Linked DNA regions of Homo sapiens. The protein of the gene in region 3 interacts with the protein of the main gene of each other region in a pairwise test. Each region holds a gene or a part of one and is shown on either strand. Other genes may lie near its edges.

Region 1 (7,025 bases), on a different chromosome or scaffold from region 3:
CCGAGGTAGGTGGATCACGAGGTCAAGAGATCGAGACCATCCTGGCCAACATGGTGAAACCCTGTCTCTACTAAAAATACAAAAATTAGCTGGGCATGGTGGCATGTACCTGTGTCCCAGCTACTTGGGAGGCTGAGGCAGGAGAATTGTTTGAACCCGGGAGGGCAGAGGTTGCAGTGAGCCGAGAGAGCGCCACTGCACTCCAGCCTGGCGACAGAGTGAGACTCCGTCTCAAAAAAAAAAAAAAAACTTGAATGTTGGCCTGAGCGCGGTGGCCCAGGCCTGTAATCCCAGCACTTTGGGAGGCCGAGGCGGGTGGATCATGGTGTCAGGAGTTCGAGAACAGCCTGACCAACATGGTGAAACCCCATCTCTACTAAAAATACAAAAATTAGCTGGGCATGGTGGTGTGTGCCTGTAATCCCAGCTACTCAGGAGGCTGAGGCAGGAGAATCGCTTGAACCCAGGAGGCGGAGGTTGCAGTGAGCCGAGATCATGCCAGTGCACTCCAGCCTGGGTGACAGAGCGAGACTCTGTCTCAAAAAAACAAAAAACAAAATAACAAAATGAGGAAGTCCAAGATTTTGGTTGTGTATGCGAGAGTCCAATAGCACATCTACAGAGCATAGTTGAAAACTGCCTTGTTCACATTCCCCTTCAATTATTTATTTTCCTGAGAAAATCAAAGAGGTCACATGCTCTTCACCTCAAACTTTCTGTTTCAGCTGGGCGCAGTAGGTAGCTCACGCCTGTAATCCCGGCATTTTGGGAGGCTGAGGTGTGTGGATCACCTGAGGTCAGGAGTTCGAGACCATCCTGACCAATATGGTGAAACCCTGTCTCTGCTAAAAATACAAAAATTAGCCAGGCATGGTGGCATGCTCCTGTAGTCCCAGCTACTCGAGAGGCTGAGACAGGAGAATCACTTGAACCCGGGAGGCAGAGGTTGCAGTGAGCAGAGATGGTGCCACTGCACTCCAGCCTGGCGACAGAGCGAGACTTCGTCTCAAAAAAAAAAAAAATTTCTGTTTCCTTATTCTTGCCTAAGGAAGATACATATGCCTTTGTCAAGAGTATTATCCGTAACACTTAAATAATTTTTTTCTAGTCACACAGCTCACAATTGATGGTACTGGATTTGAACCCATTAAGTTCAAGAACTCTATAGCCTGTTCTTTGTCACTGTACCATGCGCAGAAGACCCAGTTAAATATGATGTTAGTTCTCATACTTCTAAAACTAAGAGATTCACTCTTTCTTGGCCTTCTTTCTTCAGCTGTAGAATTCAGATATGATTTGCTTTACAGGGTGGTTATGGCATTAAATGAGATAACCTAAGGAGTAATTCAGAAATTATGAAATACTATATCTACTTGTTTGTAAGGTGTTATTTTATTGTTAAAATAGCAACTAATACACATTAACACTTACCCATGTTTTAATAAACAGTGAAACTGATGCTAGATAAATTAAGTAATTGGACTCCGTTATAGTTAATTAAGTGGTAGAATCTGGATCTGGGCGCATTTCTTTTGATGAAGGTCCCATGTGCTTATGGTCTCTGGTTGTTACCTTATGCCTCATTGATTCTGTATTTTTTCATTGTTACATCTTCTTCCTCCTGCCCCTTAAATGCATTTATTTCTTAATTTCCTAAGATCTTGTTGCTGTCGTTCTCTACTCTGAGGTTTCTGGGAGTATTCACCTACTTTGGGAAATTTGATTTACTTTAGCAGCTTTAGCTATCATCTCTGTGTGTATGGCTCCTAAATCTATTCCTTCAGCACTGACTTTTGGATGTCTTGTCCTTCTAGCATCTTGAACTTTGTTCAAGATCAGATTATTCATATTATTTTCTCAAACCGATTCTAAGTTCATTCTTTTTGTTCTGTTCTGCTAGTCACTCAAACTGGAAACTTTATACCAATGATTTTTTTATTTTTTATTTTTTATTTTTTTTTGAGATGGATTCTTGCTCTGTTGCCCAGGCTAAAGTGCAGTGGCGTGATCTTGGGTCACTACGACCTCCGCCTCCCAGGTTCAAGAGATTTTCCTGCCTCAGCCTCTCAAGTTGCTGGGAGTATCAGCGCACTCCATGATGCCCGGCTATTTTTGTATATATATATGTATATATGTGTGTGTATATATGTATATATATAAACATGTATATGTATATATGTGTGTGTGTGTGTGTGTGTGTGTGTATATATATATATATATATTTTTTTTTTTTTTTTTTTTTTTGTAGAGATGGGGTTTCACTATGTTGCCCAGGCTGGTCTCAAACTCCTGACCTCAACTGATCTTCCCTCCTTGGCCTCCCAAAGTGCTGGGATTACAGGCATGAGCCGCTGCCTCTGGCCTATACCAATGATTTTTAAGTGCAATTAGTTATTATCTCCCTGTTTCACTTATATTTGTCTTACCCTTCTGTTTTTATCATTACCATGCTAATAGAGAAGTATGAACATTGGTTACCTCATGCTTAGATTATTTAATTACTTTCTGTCTGATCTCTCAGGTTTGAGTCTTTTCTTATCTCCAGTCCATTTTCTGTCCTGCTACTATATTAATATTTTTCACTGATATCTCTTTCTTTTCCCCAGAAGCCTCAGAAATGTATTATGTAAAGGATAAAATCCAAGAATGTTAGCCTTGTGTTCAGACCATCCAGATCTGGTTCTGACCTTTCTTTCTAGGGCTGTCTTGGTTCCTGAATGCACTAATCATTTGTTCATTCATTCAGCAAATATTGATTGCTTGCCTACTTGTTTTCAAGCCAGTCATTTTTTATTAGGTATAACTGACATGCAGTAAACTACACATATTTAAAGTGTACAGTTTTTTTGTTTGTTTTGTTCTTTTTTTTTTTTTTTTGAGACGGCGTTTTGCTCTTGTTGCCCAGCCTGGAGTGCAATGACGCGATCTCCGCTCACTGCAACCTCCATCTCCTGGGTTCGAGTGATTCTCCTGCCTCAGCCTCCCAAGTAGCTGGGATTATAGGCATGCATCACCACGCTTGACTAATTTTGTATTTTTAGTAGAAACAGGGTTTCACCATGTTGGTCAGGTTGGTCTCAAACTCCTGACCTCAGGTGATCCACCCACCTCAGCCTCCCAAAGTGCTAGGATTACAGATGTGAGTCACTGAGCCTGGCCAAGTGTACAGTTTTGACATATATGTATTCTTGTGAGACAATCATTGCATCCAAGTTAGTGAATATATCTGTCATCCCCAAAAGTTTCCTTGTGCCTCTTGGTAATTCCTCCCTCTACTTGCCTTGTCCCCAGGCAACCATTGATCTGCTTTCTGTCACGATAGATAAGTTTGCTTCAGAGATAAGGGGGATGGAAAAAGAGAAAAAAGATAAGTTTGCATGTTTTGGAATTTTATACAAATGAAAATCATACAATATGTACTCTTACGGATCTGGCTTTTTTTCACTCAGCAAAAATACTGTATGTATCAGTAGTATTCCTTTTTATTGCTAAGTAGTATTCCATTGTATGTATTTACCACAATTTGTTTATGCATTCACCTGTTGATGGGCATATGGCATGTTTACAGTTTTTGCTATTACAGTGAAAATTGCTGCGAACATTCGTGTACAAGAAGCTTTCTTTTCTCTTGGGTAAATAATTAGTAATGGAACGGATAGAGATTATGTGGTAGATGTGTGTTTAACATTTTGAAAATTGCCAAGCTATTTTCTAAAATACTTGTATCTGGGAGCTAAACAATGAGCATACATGGACATAAAGGGGGAAATGCTAGACACTGGGGACTTCAAAAGAGGGAGAGGAGGAGAGGGATGAAGGTTAAATTAAAAAAAGGATTGGGAGGCCGAAGTGGATGGATCACCTGAATTCGGGAGTTCGAGACCAGCTTGACCAACATGGAGAACTCTGTCTCTACCAAAAATACAAAATTAGCCAGGCCTGGTGGTACATGTCTGTAATCCCAGCTCCTTGGGAGCCTGAGGCAGGAGAATCACTTGAATCCAGAAGGCGGAGGTTGTGGTGAGCCGAGATCGCACCATTGCACTCCAGCCTGGGCAACAAGAGCGAAACTCTGTCTCAAAAAGAAAAAAAAGGAAATAGTTTTATAATTTTACATTCTCACCAGAAGTTTATGAGAGTTCCAATTCCTCCACATTAATGCTAACAGTTGGTGTGTTCGGTTTTGTGAATTTTAGCCATTCTCAGGGACGTGTAGCCATTCTTACAGGTATCTCCTTGTTTTAGTTAGCGTTTCTCTGTTGAGTAATGATGTTAGCATCTTTTCCAGGAGTTATTTACCATCCATATGTTGTCTTTGGTAAGGGGTCTGTTCAGTGCCCCCCATTTTGTGCTAAAATAAATATAACAAAATTTTCCATTTTACCCATATTTAAGGGTACAGTTCGGTGTCTTTAATTACATTCATAATGTTATACAACCATATCACTATTTCCAAAATCTTTCATCACCCCAAACAGAAAGTCTGTACCCATTAAAAAAAAAGAAAAAAGAAAATAAACATAAGTAAACATAGAAAAGGTATATTAAAAATACAGTATAAAAGATAAAAAATGGTACACCTATGTAGGGCAGCTCCATTCTAATCTTACGAGACTACTGTAGTATATGCGGTCCATCATTTACCGAAACATCTTTATGTGACACATGGCTATATACCACTTTTTGTTTATCCTTTTTCTTAAGTTTTTTTGTTTTTTGAGACAGAGCCTCGCTCTGTCGCCAGGCTGGAGTGCAATCGTGCGATCTCGGCTCACCACACCCTCCACCTCCGAGGTTCAAGCGAGTCTGCTGCCTCAGCCTCCCGAGTAGCTGGGACTACAGGTGTGCGCCAGTACACCCAGCTAATTTTTGTATTTTTAGTAGAGATGGGGTTTCACCATGTTGGCCAGGATGGTGTCGATCTCTTGACCTGGTGATCCACCCTCCTTGGCCTCCCAAAGTGCTGGGATTACAGGCGTTGAGCCACCGCGCCTAGCCTATTTATCCATTTTTATCTCTTGATGGACACTTGGGTTGTTTTCACTTTTTGGATATTGGATATTGTTAATAGTTCTGTTGTTAACAATTATCTGTTTGAGTTCCTGCTTTCATTTCTTTTGAATATATATCTAGAAGTGAAATTGCTGGGTCATATGGTATTCTGTTAATTTTTTTTTAATTGTGGTAAAATATACCTAATGTAAAATTAGCCTTTTTTTTTTTTTTTTTTTAAATGAGACAGTGTCTCACTCTGTTGCCCACGTTGGAGCACAGTGACACAATCATGGCTCACTGCAGCCTCAATCTCTTGGGCTCAAGCAGTTGGCCTGCTTCACACTCTTGAGTAGCTGGGACCACAAGTGTGTGCCATCGTGCCTGGCTAATTTTTTTATTTTTTGTAGAGACAGGGTTTTACTTTGTTGCCAAAGCTGGCCTCAAACTCCTGGGCTCAAGTGATCTGCCTGCCTTGGCCTCCCAAGTGCTAGGATTACAGATGTGAGCCACTTGGCCCAGCCAAATTTGCAATTTTAACTGTATTTTTAAGTGTACTGTTTAGCGGCATTAAGTACATTCACATTGTTGTGCAGCCATCACCACTATCCACCTTTAGTACTTTTTCATCATCCCAAACTGAAACTCTGTACTTGATAAACAATAAATTCTCATTATTCTCTTCCCCCTAGCCCCTGTTAACCACTATTCTACCTTCTGTCTTTACATTGACTATTCTAAGTACATCATATAAATGGAATCATAAAATATTTTTGTTTATTTCTACCTCTCTATTCTGTTCTATTAGTCTCTATTTCTGTTCTTATGGTAGTACCACACTGTTTTGATTACTGTAGCTTTGTAGTAAGTTTTGAAATTAGGAAGTGTGAGTCCTCCAACTTTTTCAAGATAGTTTTGACTATTTGGCATCCCTTGAGATTCCATGTGAATTTTAAATGCAGTTTTCTACCAATATAAAAAGTACCATTGGAGTTTTAGTAGGGATTACATTGATTCTGTACATGCCTTTGAGTAATATTGCTGTCTTAACAATATTAAATCTTATGATCCTTGAACATGGGTGTCTTTCCATTTATTTAGGACTTCTTTAACTTCTTTGAGCAGTGTATTGTAGTTTTGCACGTATAAGTCTTTCTTTTTGTTTTTTATTGTTTTGAGACAGGATCTCACTGTCACCCAGGCTGGAGTGCAGTGATGCGATCATGGCTCACTGCAGCCTCAACTTCCTGGGTTCAAGAGACCCTCTTGTCTTGGCCTCCCAATGCTGGGATTATAGGTGTGAGCCACCACACTCAGCCTCCATGTATGTCTTTCAAATTCTTGGTTTTTTTTTTCCCTAAGCATTTTATTCCTTTTGATGCTGTTGCAAATGTGTTATTTTCTTAATTTCGTTTTTAGATTGTTCATTGCAAGCTTATAGAAATGCCAGTGTTTTTTGTGTGTTTGTCTCCTGTAACTGTTGTGTTTATTAGCTTTAACAATATTTTGTGGACTCTTTAGGGATTTTTACAGATAAGATCATGTCATCTGCAAAAAGATAATTTCACTTCTTTTTTAATTAGGATACTTTTTATTTCTTTATCTTGCCTAAGTACTCTGGCTGGAATTTTTAGTACCTGTATTATGTCAAATAGAAATGGTAAAAGCTGGCATCCTTGTCTTTTTCCTGATCTTAAGGGGAATTTTTCCTGATCTTAAGGGGAAGAGTTTTTAGCCTTTGAATCGTTGACTATGATTTTTATGAGTTTTTATATATGGCCTTTATCAAGTTGAGGAAGTTCCCTTCTATTTCTATTGAGTATTTTTATCATGAAAGGATATTGGATTTTGTCAGATGCCTTTTCTGCATCAATTGAGATGATCATAGTGGGGGTTTTCCATGAAGTGGTTTATTACATTGAATGATTTTTGTAGTTGAATCATCTTTCTATTCTAGGAATAAATCCCACTTGGCCACAGTGTATAATTTTTTAAATAGTCTGTTGAATTAGTTTTATTGGGATTTTGTTGAG
Region 2 (7,025 bases), on a different chromosome or scaffold from region 3:
ACAGGATCGGACTACCCAGAACCACACCGGATGTGTGCTGCCCAAGTTTCCCCTAGTAACCAAAGCTGCCACGTTAAAACGTCACGTTTCCTTCTTTCCAGAGACAAGGATACTATCTGAACATGATAAAAAATCCATGTTCCCAACGTCTGAGATGGCTCTCCCTGAACGAGCCCTGCTGAGTCTGAGAAATTCGGCGTGGACAGCCTGGGAAGTCAGCCATAGTCACGGCCCAGCCAGAAACTCTGACAAGAATGGCTGCGCCCTGCCAACTACAACCAGCCTCAAATCGCCACTGTCCCCAGATGCTGCCAAGAGCCCCCCACCTGCTGGGCAGGACCACCCACAGCTGGATCCTCCTCAAACTCCTTCTTTGGAAGTGACTTTGGAGCCACTTGAGGAAGCCTCACTACTTAGAAAAGTCACCACTGGTCTCTTACTGACCACGGATTTTAGACGCTGGCTTCATGCCTAAAGAACTCCGGCTGTTCTCAAACTCATCCATAATCGACAAAGCTCTTTGGTTTCTGAGAATTCCAAGAGAAAGTCCTCTGCAGGCCATTTCAGAAGCAGCCTCAGGGACCTGTGAACAACGGGAGTGAGCTCAGCACTTCCGGGGACAACTGGACAGTCCACAGGAGGGCCCATCATGACGTGAGCGTGGCCTCCTTCTCTGCTGACCTGACTGTGGCAAATTAGTGACACACTGGCCTATCCTACTATGACCAAGCTCCCAACATCCGACAGGACCAGAGAGGGGACCCTGTCACACCTGCACAAAGCCCTTCATCACTGCTGCACCTGCACAGACGCAGCCCCTTATGACACCCCCATAGACACAGCTTCTAGTAACACTTACACCTACCTGCATAGACAGAGCCATTTATTACACCTGCACCTGCAGAGACGCAGCCCCTCATCACACCTGCACCTTCACAGAAGAAGCCCCTCAGGACACCTGCAGAGACGCAGCCCCTCATGACTCCTGCACCTGCAGAGACGCAGCCCCTCGTGACTCCTGCAGAGACGCAGCCCCTCATGACTCCTGCACCTGCAGAGACGCAGCCCCTCGTGACTCCTGCACCTGCAGAGACGCAGCCCCTCGTGACTCCTGCACCTGCAGAGACGCAGCCCCTCGTGACTCCTGCAGAGACTCAGCCCCTCGTGACTCCTGCAGACGCAGCCCCTCATGACTCCTGCAGAGATGCAGCCCCTCGTGACTCCTGCAGAGACGCAGCCCCTCGTGACTCCTGCACCTGCAGACACACAGCCCCTCATGACTCCTGCACCTGCAGAGACACAGCCCCTCGTGACTCCTGCAGACGCAGCCCCTCGTGACTCCTGCAGAGACGCAGCCCCTCATGACACCTGCAGAGACGCAGCCCCTCGTGACACCTGCACCTGCAGAGACGCAGCCCCTCATGACACCTGCACCTGCACAGGCACAGCCCCTCATCACACGTAAACCTGCAGAGATGCAGCCCCTTGTCACATATGCACACAGTGGCAGCATCTCTGACTGTGGTCTCTAGATATAAATCTATAGGATGTCTTTCAACAAAACCCCAGCACAGCTGAGTCTCTTGGAGGTGTAGGCTGAGTTTCCAGAACATTGAGGAGAAATTCGGTGACTGCCACTTTTCAGTTGAAGCATCTGTTTTTAAACTTATCATAATTGAATTCCAAATTCTTTTCCATAGTAAATAATTCATGTTTTTAAAATTATACCTTTCTAAAAATAAATTTAAAAGTTTCATCATTTCTGAGGTGTGCTGGTTAATTCCATGTGTCAAATGACTGGGCTACGGGCTGCCCGGATAGCTGGTAAAAAATTATTTCTGGGAGTGTCTGCAAGGGTGTTTCCAGAAGAGACTAGCCCTCCTCCTGTGGATGGGCGTCATTCAATCCACTGAGGGCCTGAATAGAACGAAATGCAAGGAAGGGTGAACTCGCTCTCTCTGCTTGAGCTGAGACACTCGCCTTCTCCTGCCCTTGGACATTGGGCTCCTGCATCTTGGGCCTTCAGAGCTGGACCAGGACTCACATCAGTGGCTCCCTGGTGCTCAGGCCTTTGCCCCTGGGCTGAATTACACCACCAGCTTCCCAGGTTTTCCAGCTTGCAGATGACAAACTGTGGGACTTCATGGCCTCCGTAACTGCACGAGTGAATTCCTACAATTTATCTCCTATATATCTACACGTCTCCTATTGCCTGTTTCCCTGGAGAACCCTGACTAATCCATGAGGAAAGAAAACAAGGAAACACTGTGGAGGTGGCTGCATGTAGACATCCCATCCTGTTTCCCTGCAGACCATCCCAGAGTGGCATCTGCCCCAAAGACCCCATTTTACTCCCAAGGAGAATGCAGGCAATGAACCAAATGGTTGTCTTTTCCTCAGCCCTATATGATTTCAGTTTCACAGTGGGCAGGCAGGGAAAGCACCCAGGAAGGGGCCGACCCAGAGGCTCTACCTGTCTCTGCAGAGCAAGCTCACCGTCGAGCTCCTCAAGTTTTCTCTCCAGTGTCCATTTTAGATTTTCATACTGTTCCCGGTGGTGGTCAATCTCACCATTCTTGTCACTATGGTAATAAAACAGCATTAAGAAAAGCCATACCAAATATTCAGCAAAGGTAATACATTTTCAAGGTGCACTTGACATGTGAAAGTTGGTGCTTTGCTTTTATGAAGGGGTGGCTTCAGCAGGACCCACGGGGTAGCAGAACTTCCAGCCCCACCTGGACCAGCATGCTACACCCATCTATAAAAGAGGAAATTAAATAGGGCCCAGAGTCTCACAACATAAAACCCAAAATGTCCAGGATACAATTAAAAAAAAAACCTGACAACCAAAAACCGGAAAGATCTGACCAGGCCCAGTGGCTCACGCCTGTAATCCCAGCACTTTGGGAGGCCGAGGTGGGCGGATCACAAGGTCAGGAGATCGAGAGCATCCTGGCTAACACGGTGAAACCCCGTCTCTACAAAAAAATACAAAAAAAATTAGCCGGGCGTGGTGGCGGGCGCCTGTAGTCCCAGCTACTCGGGAGGCTGAGGCAGGAGAATGGCGTGAACCCGGGAGGTGGAGCTTGCAGTGAGCTGAGATCGTGCCACTGCACTCCAGCCTGGGCGACAGAGCGAGACTCCATCTCAAAAAAAAAAAAAAAAAGAAAAAGGAAAAAAAAGAAAGATCTGAGCTTGAAGGAGAAAAGATAATAGGTAGATGCCAACACCAAGATGACACAGACGCTGGAATTCTTCAACAAGGAAGCTACAGCAGTCATTATAAAAGCGCTTCAAGTAATCTAGTAAAGCAAATGGAAAAACAAATCTCAGCAAAGAAAAAGCTATAGCAGGCTGGGTGTGGTGGCTCACGCCTGTAATTCCAGCGCTTTGGGAGGCCAAGGCAGGTGGATCACCCGGGGTCAGGAGTCCAAGACCAGCCTGGCCAACATGGTGAAACCCCATCTCCACTAAAAATACAAAAATTAGCCGGGCATGGTGGCACACACCTGTAGTGACAGCTCCTCGGGAGGCTGAGGCAGGAGAACCCCTTGAACCCCGGAGGCAGAGGTTGCAGTGATCCGAGATCGCGCCACTGCACTCCAGCCTGGGCGACAGAGCAAGACTCTGTCTCAAAAAAAAAAAAAGAGTGTGAGACTGAAAAAGTACCTGAACATGGCTGAAAACATCCCAGGTTTGGAGAGAAGAATGAGCAAAAGACTTGAAGAGACACTTCACAACATAACGTAAAGCACTTTTAAAAGGATGCTGTAAACACTCTGGAAAGCAGCTATGAGAAAGTCAGCACCCGCACGGCGGGCAAGTGGGCCTCAGCTGTCCAAGCACTGCACGCACCTGCACGGACTCGGCGCCCAGACGAGGTGCAGGCTGAGCACCAGCCTTCATGCTGGGGACGGGAGCTTCCAGACACCCTCCCTCCACTCAGGGAGAAGCTGACCTCCAGCTCAACTCTCTCTTTCCCTGGACACTGGGCAGGTGGCACACGGGTGTCTACCACATTAGCAAGCAGCACTGCGTGGGTCAAATGACTGCTGACTGGCACTTTTTATCCACGCCGCGAGATGCGATAGAGAGAGGGACCATCAACACTGTGGGCTTCCCAGAAGACGGTGGCGCTCAGGGTACATCTGCTGCAGGGACTGCAGACGCGATCCCTGCGGGCTGCTACAGGAGATACTGGCTGCACAATACTGGTTGGGGCTTCTGAGCTAGAGGGGCACCACACCCACCAATGTGGGTCTCCTCTCCTTGCACCTGACCTGCCGCAGAAGGTCTCTCTGCTGGACCGGAGCACCTGGTGTGGTCCTGTTGGCCCGTTCACACCCATCTGAGACCCTTCTGAGCAAACCGGCCCAACACACACAACAGAGGGTAGCTGGTCAGTTAAAAGGGCGTGGCAGAACCCAGCGCACTGACACGAAGGACAGACACCACAAATCGATCAGGAAGTGCTGGACGCACATTTCGGAGCAGTGTGCGCAGGTGGCTCTATATGGGGCCTGGAGATGACACAACAGATTGCCCGTGGCGGCTTTCACTTCGCCATTCCACCACAGTATCTTCTCTGAGAAATGACTTTCTATGATAAGAATAGTTTACTCCTGCGGCTTTAAAAAGTGCTTTAAAAAGCTGCTTATGGCCAGGCGCGGTAGCTCACGTCTATAATCCCAGCACTTCAGGAAGCCAAGGCCAGTGGATCACCTGAGGTCAGGAGTTCAAGACCAGCCTGGGCAACATGGCAAAACCCCGTCTCTACTAAAAATACAAAAGAAAAAAAAATTAGCCGGGCGTGGTGGTGGGCACCTATAGTCCCAGCTACGTGGGAGGCTGAGGCAGGAGAATCACTTGAACCCGGGAGATGGAGGTTGCAGCGAGCCGAGATCACGCTACTGCGATCCAGCCTGGACAACACAGCTAAAAACTCTGTCTCAAAAAAAAAGAAAAGAAAAAAAATGCTGCTTATGTTAGAAGAATACATAAAACATAAAAAAAGTACCCAGGATCCTGTTAAGTGTAAACAGAGCATGCAGCCGGCTCTCCTAACGTCTGTACACACGCATCACACAGGAAGGGCCTCTGTTAATGTGCTATGATGAACCTGCGGTACTTCTGAAGTGGGGGATGGAAGAGCTTATCAGAGAAGCCTGTCCTCCTTCCTTCCTGTCTCCTCAAACTCTCCACAGCATGGCTGGGTGAGTGGAGCTGAGGGGATACCAGGCATGTGGTTGAGTTCCAGGGGCCCCACCACAGGCCCCACAACAAAGGCTTTAGGTTTTTATGTCGACTTGCCTTAAGTCAGCTCATTTAGTTTTGAAATTACTACAGACTTCCATTAAAATCATTATAAATTCAAATATGTATTAATATAGATTTATAATTAATGAAATAAATTCCAAATATTAAAACCAATCTCCATTAATTTCAGAGTTATATCAGAACCCAGAAAAAGACAGTCAGGGCATTCCTGGATCCATCCACATTAACTCAACAAACACATGTTCAGAGGCCACGAGGCACTCGGCCACTCAGACAGACCAGCTCCCGTGGCCTGGAATCAGCAGCGGGAGGAGGGGCAGTGAGAGTGGGCAGTGCTCGGGCAGCACAGCGGAGCAGGAGGCATGTGGGGGCCTCTGCCAGGCACTGCACAGGAGGGCGCGTCGGTCGGTGGCTCACCTGTGGACGCGCTCCAGCTCCAGGCGATGCTCCTGGAATGCCAGCTGCTGCTGCTGCTGCAGCTCCTCCACCTTCCTGGCCTCTCTGGCTAGCGCCTGCCTCAGCTTAGCTGCCTCTATCTTGAGCTCGCTCACCTCTGCCCGCCTGGCCTCTTCCCACTCCCTGGCCTGGGCGAAGGCGGCGTCATAGCGCTCCAGCTCGAGGTCCCGCTCCTCCAGCACCTGAAGGTTGTAGACAAAGTCCTCCTGCAGGCACCGCAGTTTCCCCTGCGCCTCCTCCAGCTGGCTCCGTGTGTCCTGCAGAGCCGCCTCCTGCAGCTGGGTGCGGTGTGCCTGCAGCGCCCTCCACTCCTCCTCCTTGCGAAGCAGCAGCTCATTCAGGGCGGGCTCTGAGCCCAGTGGCAGCATGGTGGCCGCTGCAGTAAAGAGAAATCAGGTTCAGGGTGCACCGTGAGGGGCCCTAATTTTCCTACCACAGTACCTACCTCACATTCCCTATCAACAGTTACCACGGCCGGGCACGGTGGCTCACACCTGTAATCCCAGCCCTTTGGGAGGCCGAGGCAGGCGGATCACCTGAGGTCAGGAGTTCAAGACCAGCCTGGCCAACATGGCAAAAACCTGTCTCTACTAAAAATACAAAAATTAGGCCGGGTGCAGTGGCTCACGCCTGTAATCCCAGCACTTTGGGAGGCCCAGGTGGATGGATCACTTGAGGTCAGGAGATCGAGACCAGCCTGGCTAACATGGTGAAACCCCGTCTCTACTAAAAATACAAAAAATTAGCCTGCTGTGGTGGCACGTGCCTGTAGTCCCAGCTACTCGGGAGGCTGAGGCAGGAGAATCGCTTGAACCCAGGAGGTAGAGGTTGCACACCAGCCTGGGTGACAGAGCAAGACTCTCTCTCAAAACAAAATAAACAAAAAAAAAAGGCCAGGCATGGTGGCTCACTCCTGTAATCCCAGCCCTTTGGGAGGCCAAAGTGGGTGGGTCACCTGAGGTCAGGAGTTTGAGACCGGCCTGGCCAACATGGTGAAACCCCGTCTCTACTAAAAATATAAAAATTAGCCATGCATGGTGGCGCATGCCTGTGATCTCAGCTACTCGGGAGGCTGAGGCAGGAGGATCACTTGAACCCAGGAAGTGGAGGTTGCAGTGAGCAGAGATCGCACCATTGCACTCCAGCCTGGGCGACACTAAGACTCTTTTCTCCAAAAAATTAAAAAAATAAATTAAAAAAAAGAAATCCAGGGGAAGTAGAGGAAGGGAAGATGGGAAACATGGTTTGTCCAGCTATAAGAGCTAGGTTCTATAAAATAGCTTCAACGC
Region 3 (7,623 bases):
CTCCCTAGGTGATTCCTAGAGTCAGCCAACTTTGCAAACCATGGAGTTAAAAACCCAAAACACAAACTTATTTGCTTCGGTCCTGAAGGATCTCAGCTGACTGTAGTTGGCCTGGTTATTGTGAGCAAATCTGATTAAGGTCACAGTTCTTAGCAGCTGTGTGATCTTGGGATGGTCTCTAACCTCTGGGATGCTCCTCTGTAGAATTGTGATGCTGTGAAGATTGGATGAGCTAAAGAGCTGGGCATGGGGTGGAGGCCACCAGTAGGCGACAGCTATTGAGTGTCTTGCATGACTATAGGATGGCAAATAATTCTCAATATGCAGTTTATGGGACTGATGTTGTTTTTCCTGGGGTGGGGATAATAAGGGGTCTGAGGAAAGATTTGGAACCCCTTGCTTGGTTCCTCCCTGGTTCTGTTGGTGACCCAAGAGGTCCCAGAGCTCCTTGCCACAGGCTCCACAGGATGTTGGCCCCACACCAGGCAAGGCTCAGCAGAGATCACTGCTGCTCCCACGGAGAGTGCACCGGGCCACTGGGGCATGCATGGCTAATGCAGGGTGGCAGATTTGAAACCAAACACTGGTGCCTGCAGCCACAGGAGAGAGTAAGGAGAGACAGAAGGAGAGCTGCACTGATGGAGTCTCGGGGCCCAGTTCGTCTTGACAATAGCCATGGGACCCCAGGCTGTCTAAGGCCTCAGTGTCCCTTCCACTTGCCTCTCCACTGTTCTGGTAGTCATGTTTCTGTCTTCGATGGCATCAGTTGTAACAAATGACACATAAGCCAGTAAAGCAATGGTTAAAGCAGATGTTTTAGTGGAGACAGAGTGGGTTTGATTCATGGTGGCAATCCTTCCCAGCTGTGTTACCTTGGGCAAGTAGCTTAACCTCTCTGAGCCTCTATACAGCAAGGATAACAGCCTATTCATGGAGCAGTTTGGAGGGTGAAGTGATACAATGGCATGATGTGCTTAGCCCAGCGCCTGGCAGAGTGATGCTCACCGAAGACAAACTATGGTACTTCTGTCCTGAAGAAACCCTGTGGTCACCACTAGAATTTGATCTGGATCTCTAAATCACCCTTGGAGGCAGCCAGTGGTACCCTGTTTTATAGATGAGAAAACTAAGGCTCAGAGAGGCCAAGCTACTTGTCTCGATACACAGAGAGTAAGCAGCAAAGCCAGGACCTTGGACGCCAAATTCAATGCTCTTTCTACCTCTCCACTGTCTTCAAGGTGCAAAATGTCTTTTAGTTGACAAAGCAGGGTTATGTCCCTTTTCTCTCTCTAGATAGTCAAGAAACCCCAATGAAGAGGCTGTGTGAGCCCATTTTATAGATAAGAACATGGAGGCCTGCTAACTTGAGGACTCCTAGCCTACGTGAAATGCAAACTCTCACTGGGGAGCCCCAGCCTGGCCCTAGCAGCTTTGGGCTTAAGCTAGAGTCCACGGGCCTGTCTGGCCTCAGGCTGGTCTCTGTTTAGGAGAGGACCAGCTGGTGGCCTTCCCTCCTGTGCCCCCACTTCCTCATTACTGTTCAAGCTGCTGGGTTCCGAACACATTCAGAACCCTCTTGGTTCAGCATTTAATGGGATGCCAGGGCAGAGGAGAAGAGAGGCTTTCAAAATAACGACTGGCAAAGGAAAAACAGGCATTCAGTAAAAGTGACAAGCACGGTCACTGGATTTCCTGACCCTTCTGGCTTTTTTCCTCTCCATGGGGAAAGTGCCTATTTGTATTTCACTGGCCAGCAGCCAAAGAACAGTGTATCTCGGAGCCACCTCCAGATCTCCCAGCAGCTTCTGGTCGATGCTCGGAAGCCCCCAGCAGAGCTGCTTGTCCATTTGGATGCAATGACTCAAGGCTGACTTCCTGAACATTTTGCCTCAGGTCCGTTGCAACTTCCTACCTCGGAAGGAGAATGTTGGGTGGACATTTAGGATTTTGAACCAATTAAATAGCAGAGTCCAGGGCTAGACATGGAGGATACTTAGCAAGGTTAGTGGACAGCATTGTGCAGTTGATCTGGAACAAGCATCAGCAGACCTGGAATCCCTGCTGGCTCATTAGTGGCATGATGTCAGCCACTTTACCTGGCAGATGCCTCTGCAGGGAAAATTCCAGCAGGTACTCACCACCAACAGAACTAAGAGGGCCACTCAGGATCTAAGCCACCCAGAGATGCAGGCGTGGGGGCTGCCTTGAAGCTCAAAGCTACTTGGGTTTGGTAGCAGTTTCAAAAAGTGACACACCCAATCCTACAGCTCTTGATTTCTGGCCCAATCTCAGACTTGCCTTGTATTGCAAAGTCCTAAAGCCAAATTCACCAGAAAGGCAGGCCCTTCACACGTTAACCTGCGTGCACTATGTGCCATGCACTGTGCTAAGCACCTAGCAGCCATATCTCATGAAATATGAAATTCTTACGACAGACTGAAGAGGTGGGTACTGTTATTATCCTCTTTTTACAGTCAAGGAAACTGAAGTTCAGGGAAGTCATCTGATTTCCCCAAATCACACAGCCGGTGAAGGAAAGAGCTTGAATCTGAGCCAAACTCTGAAGCTGAAATCTGTGTTCTGTCTGTTGTGCTGAGAATTAAACCCCCATACTGTGTGATAATTGACTTAGGTGAGGCTATATCATGCATTAATTCAGATTCACCTGAGGATGCAGCAGAAAAAGATCAACAAGAATGCAGGGCTATGCCAGGGGGCTCGCTTCTTTGTCTCCTACCCTTTTCCGAAACCCAGGGTGCCTGGAGGCATCTCCCGTATCATTTTATGGATGCTGGGACATAGCCCGGGTACCTAAACTCAAAGCACTCAGGTCCACTGACAGCCCACTTCAGTGTACCGGGTCTGCCCTCCTTCCCTTCCACCTCCTCCCGAACGGCACCGCTCTCAACAGCAGATGAAACAGAACAGAGATGGTCTTACTTCTCAGGTCGAGTCCTTGGGAAGGGAAGTCAGGAGCGTGTTGCTGGGTTCCTCACTCCACCGGGAAGTCCCAGACTAGCAAGGAGGGCTGCCTCTAGAGGGCGGTTCTTAAACCCCTGGGAACGGAGGCTGCTGAAATGTGCCAACAAGTGAGACAGCCTTTGCATTCCTGTTTATTCTGGTATCAATAAAAAGGAACTGTTACTATAGTAACAGATATTCCACTTGGTGCACGGCCACTTCCACGATGCGGAACATCATGTCCAAGCCACACGCTTGAGAGGCACAAATAAATACCCATTTTGTCAGATTGATGAGGAATAAGAAACACGCCAAGCTTTGTTCTGAGCAAGGCGGCTCACGTAAAGGAATTTCCCTTGTTTCTTATGGGAGGGTCAGGCAAGAGTGGATTCCAGCACTTCCCCATGGGAGGGGAAGCCAAGCTTCCTGAGGCAGTGGTGTGGATTCTTCAGGAGAAAATGGCTCTGGGGGGAAAAGGGTGGGGTGTAAAGGGAGGGGAAACTGCTCAGCATTGGGTCAGTTCTTAATTATCCACGAATGGGTCAGAAACTCCGTACACAGCGTTTTCCTGATACCTTGAATGTCATTGGAACTTCACAGAGGAGCCAACGGAAGAGCGTGGGAGAGGGGATGCACCGTGTCTGGGTCTCAGCAGGCTCATGTGTTGGCCCTGGCTCCAGCACCAGCCCCTTCAGCAGCCACTCAGTGTCTCTGTGTCTTGGTTTCTGTGTTTGTCAAATGTGGAGCATACCAGGGTGGTTGGGAGATGACATGGATGAGATGACATTAGTGAAGCACATAGTCAAAGCTCAGCATATAGGACTTTTCTCCAAGAGAGACCTGGACTCTACGTGATCTGAGGCCAGAGCCCAGCATGGTGCATTTTGCCTGGCAGAATATGTGTTCCATAAGTAGTGGCTCAATGAATGAACATGTGAATGTAAAATATAAAAGTAGGCCAGGCATGGTAGCTCATGCCTGTAATCCCAGCACTTTGGGAGGCTGAGGTAGGCAGATCATTTGAGGTCAGAAGTTTGAGAACAGCCTGGCCAACATGGTAAAACCCTGTCTCTACTAAAAATACAAAAATTAGCCAGGGGTGGTGGCACACACCTGTAATCCCAGCTACCTGGGAGGCTGAGGCAGGAGAATTGCTTGAACTTGGGAGGCAGAGTTTGCAGTGAGCCAAGATTGGGCCACTGCACTCCAGCCTGGGTGACAGAGCAAGACTGTCTCAAAAAAACCCAAAAAACAAACAAACAAAAAAACCCAAGAAAAGTAAAAAATGTATGTAGATCCTTAAGGCCAGCCTGGATGCTTATAGATAATGGAGGCATTCTCCTAATTTCAGAATCAGCTTTCACTTGAAAAGCTGGAAGTGTTTTCTATCGTTTAGTGTCATCCTAGTTCCCCAGTGAGGAAGCTGGGGTCTACCAGTTAGACCAGGCCTCCACCCCAACTTTACTTTCTCATGGAGTCTTGGTTGGCTAGAAGGTGATGAGGCCTAGGACATGCATCACAGGTGAATGGAGGCTTTAACAAGGCAACCTTGTGTCTTCTTTGGCCTATATTATTTGTTCATTTAACAAACATTTATTTAATTCCTACTGTGTTCCTGGCACTGTTCTAAGTGCTGGGGGTACCATGTGAATGACACAGGTAATATCCCTGCTGTCAGGGAACCTACCTTCAAGGGGGACACACAGTAAAGAAGGGGACATTCAGGATGACGTCAGGCAGTGAGGAATGCCGTGATGAACGCAAGGCTGGGTGAGGTGAGAGCGGGTGGTGTTTTAGGGTAGCAGAATCACAAGGAGTCAGTTGTGTGAAGTCTGTACACATGGGAGAGTCTTCGTAGGGTGGGAAGAGCCAGTGGAAAGGCCCAGACTGGGTGGATCCTGGTGTGATGTAAAGGCAGGCTGGGTGCCATCTTGGGAGTGAGGGAGGTGGGAGACAGGGGTGGAGTGGGAGGGACAGGGCAGGCATGTCCAGGGAGTCTTGGCCACGCTGACCATTCTCGAGCCACTTAAACTAAGAGGGTCCTAAATTCTTGGGTATAAAACAATTTTCTGGAAACAATGTGTGGTCCCTTTTTTTCTTCTTCCCCAATTCTGCATTTCTTGAGGCACTATGAATGGTAGCCCCCTCAGCCTCCCACCCTGCTCTGCCTTAACTTCCCCAAACTCTCCTGGTAGAAGAGGACAGCTAGATTCTTGTCAAACCACTCTTTGCTGACCCTGGTTCCTTGCACACATCCTCCTGCTCTGCAAAGAAGTATTTTGAATATTTCCTAGGGTCTTTGGTGGCTCAGATGAACCAATCCCAGTGCCTTCTAACAGTTGGAGAGTAAGAAGGATCCTGGAGCGGGGGAACTTCTGACAGCTCCTGCTCATCCCCGGAGAAGACAGAAGCCCATCACCTGGTACACTTCAGAGGAACACGCACCTGACAGCCAAGGAGAACTGGGCAGTAGTCCTCGGATGTTGGGCGTCATTTTCCGTGGGCAGTTGGGAGTCACTGTGCTTCTCCCACAAAAACTCTTCTCACAGTCCAACTTGTATACAAACCCATCAGACTGCTAGCCCCAGGGCAGGTACCTACCTATCTTCCTGTCCCAGTACTGAGGGGCTCAATAACTATTGTTAACCTGAAGACACCGAAAACCTTGACAGCGCTGAGCTTGTTACAGCACCATCTTGCTGTGTGTCCATGTGCAGGTGCAACTGTACGTGAGATCAGCGGCCAACCACCACCCTTTCCCAGGCCACACTCCATCAGCAAGAGACTATGCTACACCCCAAGACGAGATGCAGCCAATAAACATGTCTATGTATTGACCTGAAAAAGATGTCTTCTACATATTCAATGAAAAATCATATGTAGTAGGATCTCTTTTTTTTTTCAAGATAAAAAAGTTGGTATATGTATAAAGAACTAGTGTGGAGGCAAATACACTAATCTGTTAGCAGAGGTCAACTCTAGATCAGTGTATCTCAAATACTATTACTAGATGTCATTTGAAATGAGTGCTAAAAATGCTCTTGCTTTTTTTTTTTCCTAGGGAGGAACCTAGGAATCTGGATTTTTTTTTTTTTTTTTTTTTTGAGACAGAGCATTACTCTGTTACCTAGGCTGAATGCAGTGGTGCCATAATGGCTCACTGCAGCCTTGACCTCCTGGGATCAAGCGAGCCTCCCACCTCAGTCTCCCAAGTAGCTGAGACTACAGACACATGCCACCACACCCAGCTAATTTTTTATTTTTTTTAGAAATGAGATCTCACTGTGTTGCCCAGGCTGGTCTTGAACTCTTGGCCTCAAGTGTTCCTCCTGCTTCAGCCTCCCAAAGTGCTAGGATCACAGGAATGAAGCCACCATGGAATCTGGATTTTAAACATACCTCTCTGGGGGCTCATTTATATTAAAGAGTTTGAGGACCATTGTTCTACAGCGTAAAATTACAGGCCCTTCTCCTTTGTCACTGCATTTCTGTGATGTTTGCGGTGTTAAAAGAAAAAAAAAGGCCCTAGCATATATTACTTTTGTTATCAGAAAAAGACTCTAAGAATTAAAAATGTGAGAAAGAGCAACATTTCCCAAACAACTGTAGTTAGTTAGGAATCACATCTGGCTCAGTTATGTCATCAGAATATGGGAAAACAGAGGCCCTCTGAACAAACAAGCCTTTGAGGCGTTTACTCCAGGTAATTGCATAATTCAAGCCACAGTCGCTGTCTCCTGCCTCCTTCTGTGTGGCTTTCCCTGGAGGTCTTCCTATTCTTCCAAAAGGAAGGACTCTGGGAAGCCAGGGGCCTGGGGATCTGCATACTTGCTCGGCCCCCTGGTGAGCTGGGGCATCAAAGGGGGAAGCCCAGGGGCTGGGCACACCCCTCCTGTCTTCCCTCCCATCCCCTTTTAACTCTGATTTCTTGGGAACCAGAGGAACCCAAAGGAAGGGGGACAGGGAAGACCAGGGGAGGCAGTCCTGACAGGGAGGTGGAGAATTTTCCTGCATCTATAGTGGGCTGGGCTGCAGTGTGCAGAAAATAACCTCCCCAAACAGCTTTTGTTTCATTTTTGCCCCCTTTCTCCAAGCCCATGGGCGCCTAGAACAGCTTATCTGGGCCCACGAACATCAAACAAGAAGTTTCCATGGCAACTTAAAACTTCCTCCTCAGCCCTGTATTCAGTCTAAATCTCCAAGGCCCCTTTTCAAGGCCTCAATGGGGTTTCTGAGCAGCCACCCACAAAACAGCCCTAGGATTAAACCGTGCCCCCCGCCTCTCAAACATGCTCTGCAGAAAGGACTCGGGGGTTGGGGGAGAAGAAGCTGTGCTGGCAGAAAGAACCTGTCATGGGATCTGTGGAGAGATTATAAAAGGAATGAGAGTCGCCTTTACAACAAGTTTGAACCGGGAAGAATTTACCCAGTTGAGGGATTTCAAGCGTGAAAATGGGAAAGTGAGAGGGGGTGGGGAAGAACTTAGAGTCTTGTTTCTGAAAGCTGGCTCTCCACCCAGCTGCAATTAGACATGGTTAATTTGGTCTCTTAGCTGCAGAAGGACCCTGGGGTACCCCCATCCCCAGTACATTTTAATTCCCTTGTAATCAGACAAGAAGCACAGTGAGTGAATCTATGGATGGTGAGAGGATGTGAGAGGGA
Region 4 (7,025 bases), on a different chromosome or scaffold from region 3:
AGTCATAAAGTACACATCCAATATCTAAAATTATACATTTTTAGCAATTTTGTTGATAAAGTTTTAGCATTGCTCAGCATTCATGGTTAGTTAATAATTTTTAAAAGCAATTTGAAACATAAAAGATTTAACACAGGCTTTAGTATATTTTAAAAACAATTAACCAAGTAAATGTTTTAAATTAGAATCGTTTCATGATTGCCAAATAAAAATTCTTCCCAAAACCACTGTTATAAAATATTTCATCTCATTATGAGAGATGGTATAATGTGAAGTCCATACAAACTAATAAATCCTCAGAAAATTTCTACCCCATCTCTCACTTTGATCTTCTGGAGAGGGAGGGCAGGGGATTCTTCAGGGTTCATAATAACAATGTCATTTGTCATAAGAAATCATATTTTATAATTTCACAGGAGCGTAGAAGAAGAGAGGTGCATGGTGTGGTGAGGAAGAGGGTTATATTCACAATTAAAACTGTGAAATGCTAAACTGCATTATGAAGACAAATAGGAAAGTACAACTCCATTGTTGAAAACAATTTCCCTCCTATCAGTCTAAGGATTCATGCATCAATATTGTAGATGAACTGTTAATTACAAAATCAATTAAAAATTATTTCTAAAAACAGTCACGCGTCCCTGGCTCTCATGGGGGCAATTTGGGCAGAAGGTCTCATCTCACTAGGACCGCGCCAAATCACAAAGTCGTCATCCACAAGTAAGCAAAAGCAATCTGGTTTTTCATTTTTCAGCGCGGCTGAGCCCAGCCTGAGATTGATCGTCACATATGGCCCCAGAAAACAAACTGTCAATACCTTGAATGCTGCAGAATTTGAACAAATAGCCGTCCGCCCATTCAAGCCACTCATTGCATCCCATTTAACAGATTTTATTGACAGTTTCCTTCTTGTAATTAAAGGGAAAACTACTGGCCGGCAACCAAGATAAAGTTCAAAGATAGGGTCAAAACAAAAGCAGATGGAGGGGCACGGTGTGACTGTCAGTGGTACATAGCATCAGAGCACGTTATTGACACGCAGGTATCTAATGATCGGCACGTCATTAAGGAGGGATCTATCCTGAACTTTATGCAAATGCTAAAAGAGACTTAAGACCATAATAAAGCATTAAGAGAGGCACAAAGGGAAAAACAACAAAGCACCAACGATTTTTACTTATTAGAGGTTGCTATTTTAGCATGTTTCAGTTCGAATGTAAAGACCAGTTATTCCCATAATTCTTAACCCTTACTGCATAGGCAGAATTTGACTTCTAAAGAACTCCAGAATGTAAGAAAACTGTTCTTTGATAACCAAAACTCAAAGCAACACTAAATATATTTTCCCAATTGCACAATTTGCATTTTTGAGGGAAAAATGGTTTGTGTGTATCAACAATTCCCTTGTTTTAACTTACGCATAAAATACAATAGAAATAATTTTGTCCTGGGAGTGTCCATTTATGCTATTACTACAAGAGCTTTTGCTTTGCCATGATCCAAATTAGTACATGCATTAGTTGATAAAAGTTTCAAAGCATTCAATAAGCAAGTCAAATGAAATTAATTCCCTTTAAGTATATTTTTCTTATTTCTAACTTTTCACTAGAAAGCTATACTGATTATAATTTTGCTGACTCATACAAAATTTACAAACCAGGTCTAGCAAATCCCTAAAGAAGTTAAGGAGAGGGGTAAAACTGACATATTAAAAAAAATGTAACAATGACTATGTCAGTATGCCAACCTGAATTAGCAAGAGCTATAGCTTTGAGGGTGACAAATTCTTCTTTTTCCAGCTTCATGCTCTTGTATTTCTTTACCAGCTGCAGGATAGCATTATTTAGATCAAGAAGGCCTGCTAATTTGGACTGGTCTTCGTCCATTATATAATCGTCTGCATAGACAAGTTCATCCTCAAACGAAAGAGACCGGTATACGACACCAAGGATCAAAATTTCCATCCAAGCACTCTGCAGAAGGCTCATCTGGTCCGCCAGGGACAGCGTGGAGAAGCCTGCATGGAAAGATGGGCAGATCAAGTTACTTTAAAGCCATAATTTCATAATGCAACATTAGTTTCATATGGTAGCTGGCTTCTGCATCAGTGCTCAAAATTATGCTGAGCTTTGATTAGAAGCTCTTAAAATTTTCCCTGGATCACTTTGCGAACAGCAAAGTGAAAGTCACAAACCAGCTTCTTCAATTTGTGGGTATTTGCTATAAGTTTTATAGACACAGCTTAGGGGAATATAATAGAGATGTCGCTTTCTTTCATTCGAGAAGAAAATACCATGTAATCTTTAAATATACTTGATTTCTGGTTGAAGTCTTTAGGAAAATCTTACAGGAAGTCAGATTTTCAACTATCTCATCTCTAAAAACTACTATTGGTAAACAACATAAAAGTAAAAAAAAAAAAAAGAAGAAGAAGGAGAAGAAGAAGCAGCTAAAAATAAAAGGTAAACAAACAATTTAGGCCATAGAGCTCAGCACAACTTGGAAACATTTCTGTATAATATTAATAATTACAAGCACAATGGATGATGAGTTACAAATAGGTGAGCCTTCTTAATTGGCTATTTCTCCCCACTGATATTTAACATGACTTTCTTTTAAAATTAGTGATAATAGGTATAAAAGAAAGTGTAATATGTAGCAGCCTGGCCTCCCCACCAAAGAGAAAAGCCTCGTTCACTATTGTTATTAAGCTCCAATTATTTAAAAAGTTAAATATAAATAAAGGTAACAGGGTTTGGTGCAAAGGAGTCAGATTCTGAATGTAAATACTGGCTCCACTTAGCTACTGGCTCTTTCACCTTGAGCAAGAGAAATTAACTTGTCTCTTAAATTTCGTATTTGGGAAATATAAAATATCACCTACCTAAACATTAAGCTATAACCTGAAATTCAGTAAGTGTTGTTGTATGATTAATATATGTTCTTTTTATCTGAATTACCTATGTGATCAATTCTTTTCTGCAAATCTGGGATGCATTCATACACGCATATTTAAAGTCCCTCTGAGCTTGAGAAAACATATGCAAAAAAATTAAAAAGAAAATGTTGTTCAATAGAGAAAGAGGAAGCAGTACAATTAAGCCTACTTAGGAGTGAAGATATATATTTATATATCAGAGGGACTAGATCTGTATTCTAAAGTGAAGATACCTGATGATCAGAAGCTTTTCTCAAGTCCTAAAAAAGAAATGTTTCTTAAAACTTCACTTTTATTTCCAAGTGTATGCCTAAGACTTCTAAGGGTAACCATCCACCTCATGGCTTCTGAGGACAGTGGTACCATCATTTAAGGTCCTGCCACCAGTAATTCTACAGAAAGGAAGGACCATTTTTAATAATGCAACTTAAGAAATCTATTTTTACTCCCTTTCTAGACATTATTATCCAAATCATAAGTAGCCACTGATGCCCAACCTTTTTAGGCTGCTGCTTATGGTCACTGTTGCTGTCCTTTTCAATCATATCAAATTGTGGGTATCCCATATGATATTAGAAACTACAGCACAGTAAAGAAAAGGAAAGGATTTCCTGACCTATTGGTGAAAAACAGTGGTTTGCCATTTGGTACCATTAATTATAAGTGCTTAATAAAATCATCAGAAGAGATGAGTCAAGCTTTTCTTAAGGGAATCTTTAAGATATGTGTAAAATGCATTTCTTTCGTTGTTTATCATGGTGCTTACATGTTATTTGACAGGATTTCTTTTGGACTGGCTGTGTAAGTCTTGTTTCTTATTCTGCTTTTGTCATTGCATTTGGGGTTAAATTAATAAATATCCTCTTAGAGATATAATAGCTGATAACATTTTAAACAGCGGTTCAACACAGAAAACTAAATTATTTAACCTAAATAGGTTAGGCTCCAGATGCTTTTAATTTTAGCAATGTTATATTCACAACAAACAAACAGAAAACCACACTGCTCTTTTTTCTATTCCCCTCCAAGGAAAAAAGGTGCAATGCAAATCCAAATATCAATCTCAAGAAAACATACTAAGTAAGAATTTCTTGTGTAAATTAAAATACCAAAAAAAAAAAATCATCTGGAAAGTTAGGAGCAAAAATGAATGGGTCTTTTCAATTTGCCTTAGTTTTCTTGTTCCTTTTCATGCTCCCAAGTCGCAGTTTCTCTGCAGCAGCAGATGGACAGAGCGTGTAGCCCGCAGCACCTTCCTGTGACAGCCCTATTCTCCCTCCCAGACACTGCTGTTAGTAAATAGATTTACACATTCTCCAATCTCCACACATCTTTCTGCCGAATAATTAAAAGCAGGATGATTAGTTTATTGAGTGGAAGGAGGAACTTTTTTATTGAGGTCCATCCACGATTTTATCAGGGCCAGCACTTTTACGGTTGTCAGGGGGGTGCAGGCATCCAATTTTTCTTATCTGCCTGATTAATACAAACGCTGTTTCAGGACACATTAATTAACAGATACAAATCTACGTTCTCATGGAAGGATCAATACGGAGAAGAAAAGAGGCATCAATGTGAATTTAGTGCTGATGATGGAGAAGGCACGCTAGCGACATTTACGTGCACGGAAACTTTAAAGTTGCACCGGGCCCCCTTTGTCCCTGTGATTTACAAATTAACAATGTTACAGCCATAACAACATTTCGCACATTTCTTTGGGGTTTAATTGAACAAAAAACAATAAAATTTCATTTTTAAAGTTGATCCTGCAATTTGTTTCTTCTATATTGATGGTTGTGTGTGTGTATATGTGTGTGCATGTGTGTGTGTTTATCCTTCCTGCAAACCTAACTTTTTCCTTTTGCTTCTCTATGAAATAAAGAGAAGGAAAAAAGGGGAAGAAACAGCTCTCCTTTTTTTTTTTTTTTTTTTTTTTTTTTTTGGTGAGGGAGCATGAGGAGACGGATATAGCACAAAAGGTTTGACACATTTGCTTGATTGATATCCTCAAGTATATTTCAGCTGATTAAAGGAAGTATACTTTTTGCAAATCCAAAGGAAAAAGGACAATCTATGCCTTACAAAATAAAATAAAAGTCTGAACTTCTTCTATCTTTTCTTGGTCTAGAAATTGCTGGCTCTCATTTTACCCCTTTCCTACCACACCACTGCAATCTGGAAGCTAGTACAAAGAGCTCTCCTGCCCAAATGCCTGAGCAGCAGTTAAGACAGCCTTGTTATAAGATAGTCATGTTCATCTGGTCACTAAGGAGACCAAATACATAATAGAAATTTTATCTTAATTCCATAAAATTATTTTACCTTTTCTTTAGGAGTACTAGCTACGTTGCACATACATAAAAACGCATGGATAAAATAACATTTTTATCAATAGACCTGAACAATGTATAAAATTCTAAATAACCAAGGCCTAAATGAAAATGCATGTTTTAATAAGCTGAGTCTAAGGAATTTTCTTAAAACATAATTGCTCTATTGGCTTACACATGCTTGTATCCAAATGATAATTACTTGTTTATGTTTATACCAGGTATTTAATGGTAGTTTATAGCTCTTGGGCTACAAGTTAGAGGTCTTCATCATCTGTAATATTTAGCTATCTTTGGAGAGAAACCTCTTTCCCAAGTGAAATAAAATATGCTTTGCAGTTGTGTCGTTTGAACTTCATGTTTTGTACATCCTGGGACCTTAATCTTTGGTGTGTGACAGGTTATAGTTTTAAATGTTCAGCCATATTACAGCTTTTTAAAATGCACTGATACCATGGCACATTTTTTCTTCCACAGCTATAGCCCATTCCCTGCATATCGCTGACAACTCGGATCTCTCTTCATCTCTGTCCCAGAGTCAGTGCCATTTAATGTATCTCAGGCATTTTGCTTGCAGAATGACTCTCTACCTTGACCCGCAGTTAAATAGCATGTTTATCTGCAATACAGTGTGCTCCAAATAAACCAGATGACAGTTGGGAATAACATCATTTGGAAGGATTGAAAAGCTTCTCAAGAGGCAGGTACCCCTGAGGTAATAGGCTTGAAGAAAGCATGTTTTGTGCCAACCGTCTTGCCTTCTTCTACTGGAAACTTTGGAGGTTGACAGTGGTGCCATGGGCACTCATCAAGCACTGTTTTTTTTTTTGTTTTTTTTTTTTTTTAGCCTGGCAAACTGATGCACTTTGCAGTCAACTTACAAAAAAGGCTAAGCATTTGAAAGTGTGAAGGGCAAAAAATATCTGACGGCTAGTCTTCAAAAATACACTTTCATTTCAGAAAGCATAAATGTTTATTTCCTGAACAGAGTGTTGACAGAAATAGGCTGCAGTGCAGGCATTTGGGTTTAACCCCTGCTAGGCATTTTCTTCTCGGCTGCTTTCTTGAAATAGAGAGCAAGCATTTTAAATCTTCAGGGCATCTGTTAATATCAGTTAATCATGGCATTGACTTGCCTGATCACAGTTTTTGAACTGTAGTTTTTCTGTTCCACAAAAAAAAAAAAAATCAACATTTTTCAACAACTAGCATATCATGCTAGAACTGTAATTATGCCATAATGACTCACTGAGATCACAAATGAAGTTCATTTTGAGAAGCTGATTAAGCAATGCAACGTAAGCTAGATTCTTTTCTTTCCCGTACAAATAAACCTAATGTTTACAGGACCCAGAGAAGAAAAGAATAACAGTGGCACTAACATTTGGTCTTAGCTACCAATAGACACACAGATGCATAACCCTTGCTAGAGATAAACTTATTTTGTATTTTTAAGCCAGATGTTCTTTTCACATATGGGGCAGACATATCACTTTGTCCTATGATTCACAAAATACACAGCTCAGGGGCTTGTAGGAAACTTTATATATATATATACATATATATATATATGTAAGTTATATATATATATATATAGTCTCTTGCAGGAGACTATATATATATATACACACACTTTTTTTTCATGAACTGGAACTCAGTAGGAGCTAGAGTTAAGCAGCTACAGATGGTTAACTGCAGAAGTGAAAGCTGGAACATCTACATGGTGCTATCAGAAGCATTTTATTTAAAATTTTTCT

Evidence for each region.
Region 1: the proteins of FAM107A (region 3) and TRIM37 interact in binary tests that used the Homo sapiens proteins (3 or more experiments, as listed by UniProt).
Region 2: the proteins of FAM107A (region 3) and CCDC57 interact in binary tests that used the Homo sapiens proteins (3 or more experiments, as listed by UniProt).
Region 4: the proteins of FAM107A (region 3) and ESRRG interact in binary tests that used the Homo sapiens proteins (3 or more experiments, as listed by UniProt).

What each region holds. Positions count from the first base shown.
Region 1 is NC_000017.11:59,096,875-59,103,899, reverse strand, and holds part of TRIM37 (E3 ubiquitin-protein ligase TRIM37), read left to right. Parts: intron 1-7,025. UniProt on the Homo sapiens protein: E3 ubiquitin-protein ligase required to prevent centriole reduplication. Probably acts by ubiquitinating positive regulators of centriole reduplication.
Region 2 is NC_000017.11:82,195,841-82,202,865, forward strand, and holds part of CCDC57 (coiled-coil domain-containing protein 57), read right to left. Parts: intron 6,113-7,025; coding exon of another isoform or gene 6,105-6,112; coding exon 5,698-6,104; intron 2,585-5,697; exon of another isoform or gene 2,583-2,584; coding exon 2,474-2,582; intron 1,257-2,473; exon of another isoform or gene 1-1,256. UniProt on the Homo sapiens protein: Pleiotropic regulator of centriole duplication, mitosis, and ciliogenesis. Critical interface between centrosome and microtubule-mediated cellular processes. Centriole duplication protein required for recruitment of CEP63, CEP152, and PLK4 to the centrosome.
Region 3 is NC_000003.12:58,574,369-58,581,991, forward strand, and holds the start of FAM107A (actin-associated protein FAM107A), read right to left. Parts: upstream 3,024-7,623; 5' UTR 2,941-3,023; intron 447-2,940; exon of another isoform or gene 1-446. UniProt on the Homo sapiens protein: Stress-inducible actin-binding protein that plays a role in synaptic and cognitive functions by modulating actin filamentous (F-actin) dynamics. Mediates polymerization of globular actin to F-actin. Also binds to, stabilizes and bundles F-actin.
Region 4 is NC_000001.11:216,517,405-216,524,429, forward strand, and holds part of ESRRG (estrogen-related receptor gamma), read right to left. Parts: intron 2,018-7,025; coding exon 1,748-2,017; intron 1-1,747. UniProt on the Homo sapiens protein: Orphan receptor that acts as a transcription activator in the absence of bound ligand. Binds specifically to an estrogen response element and activates reporter genes controlled by estrogen response elements.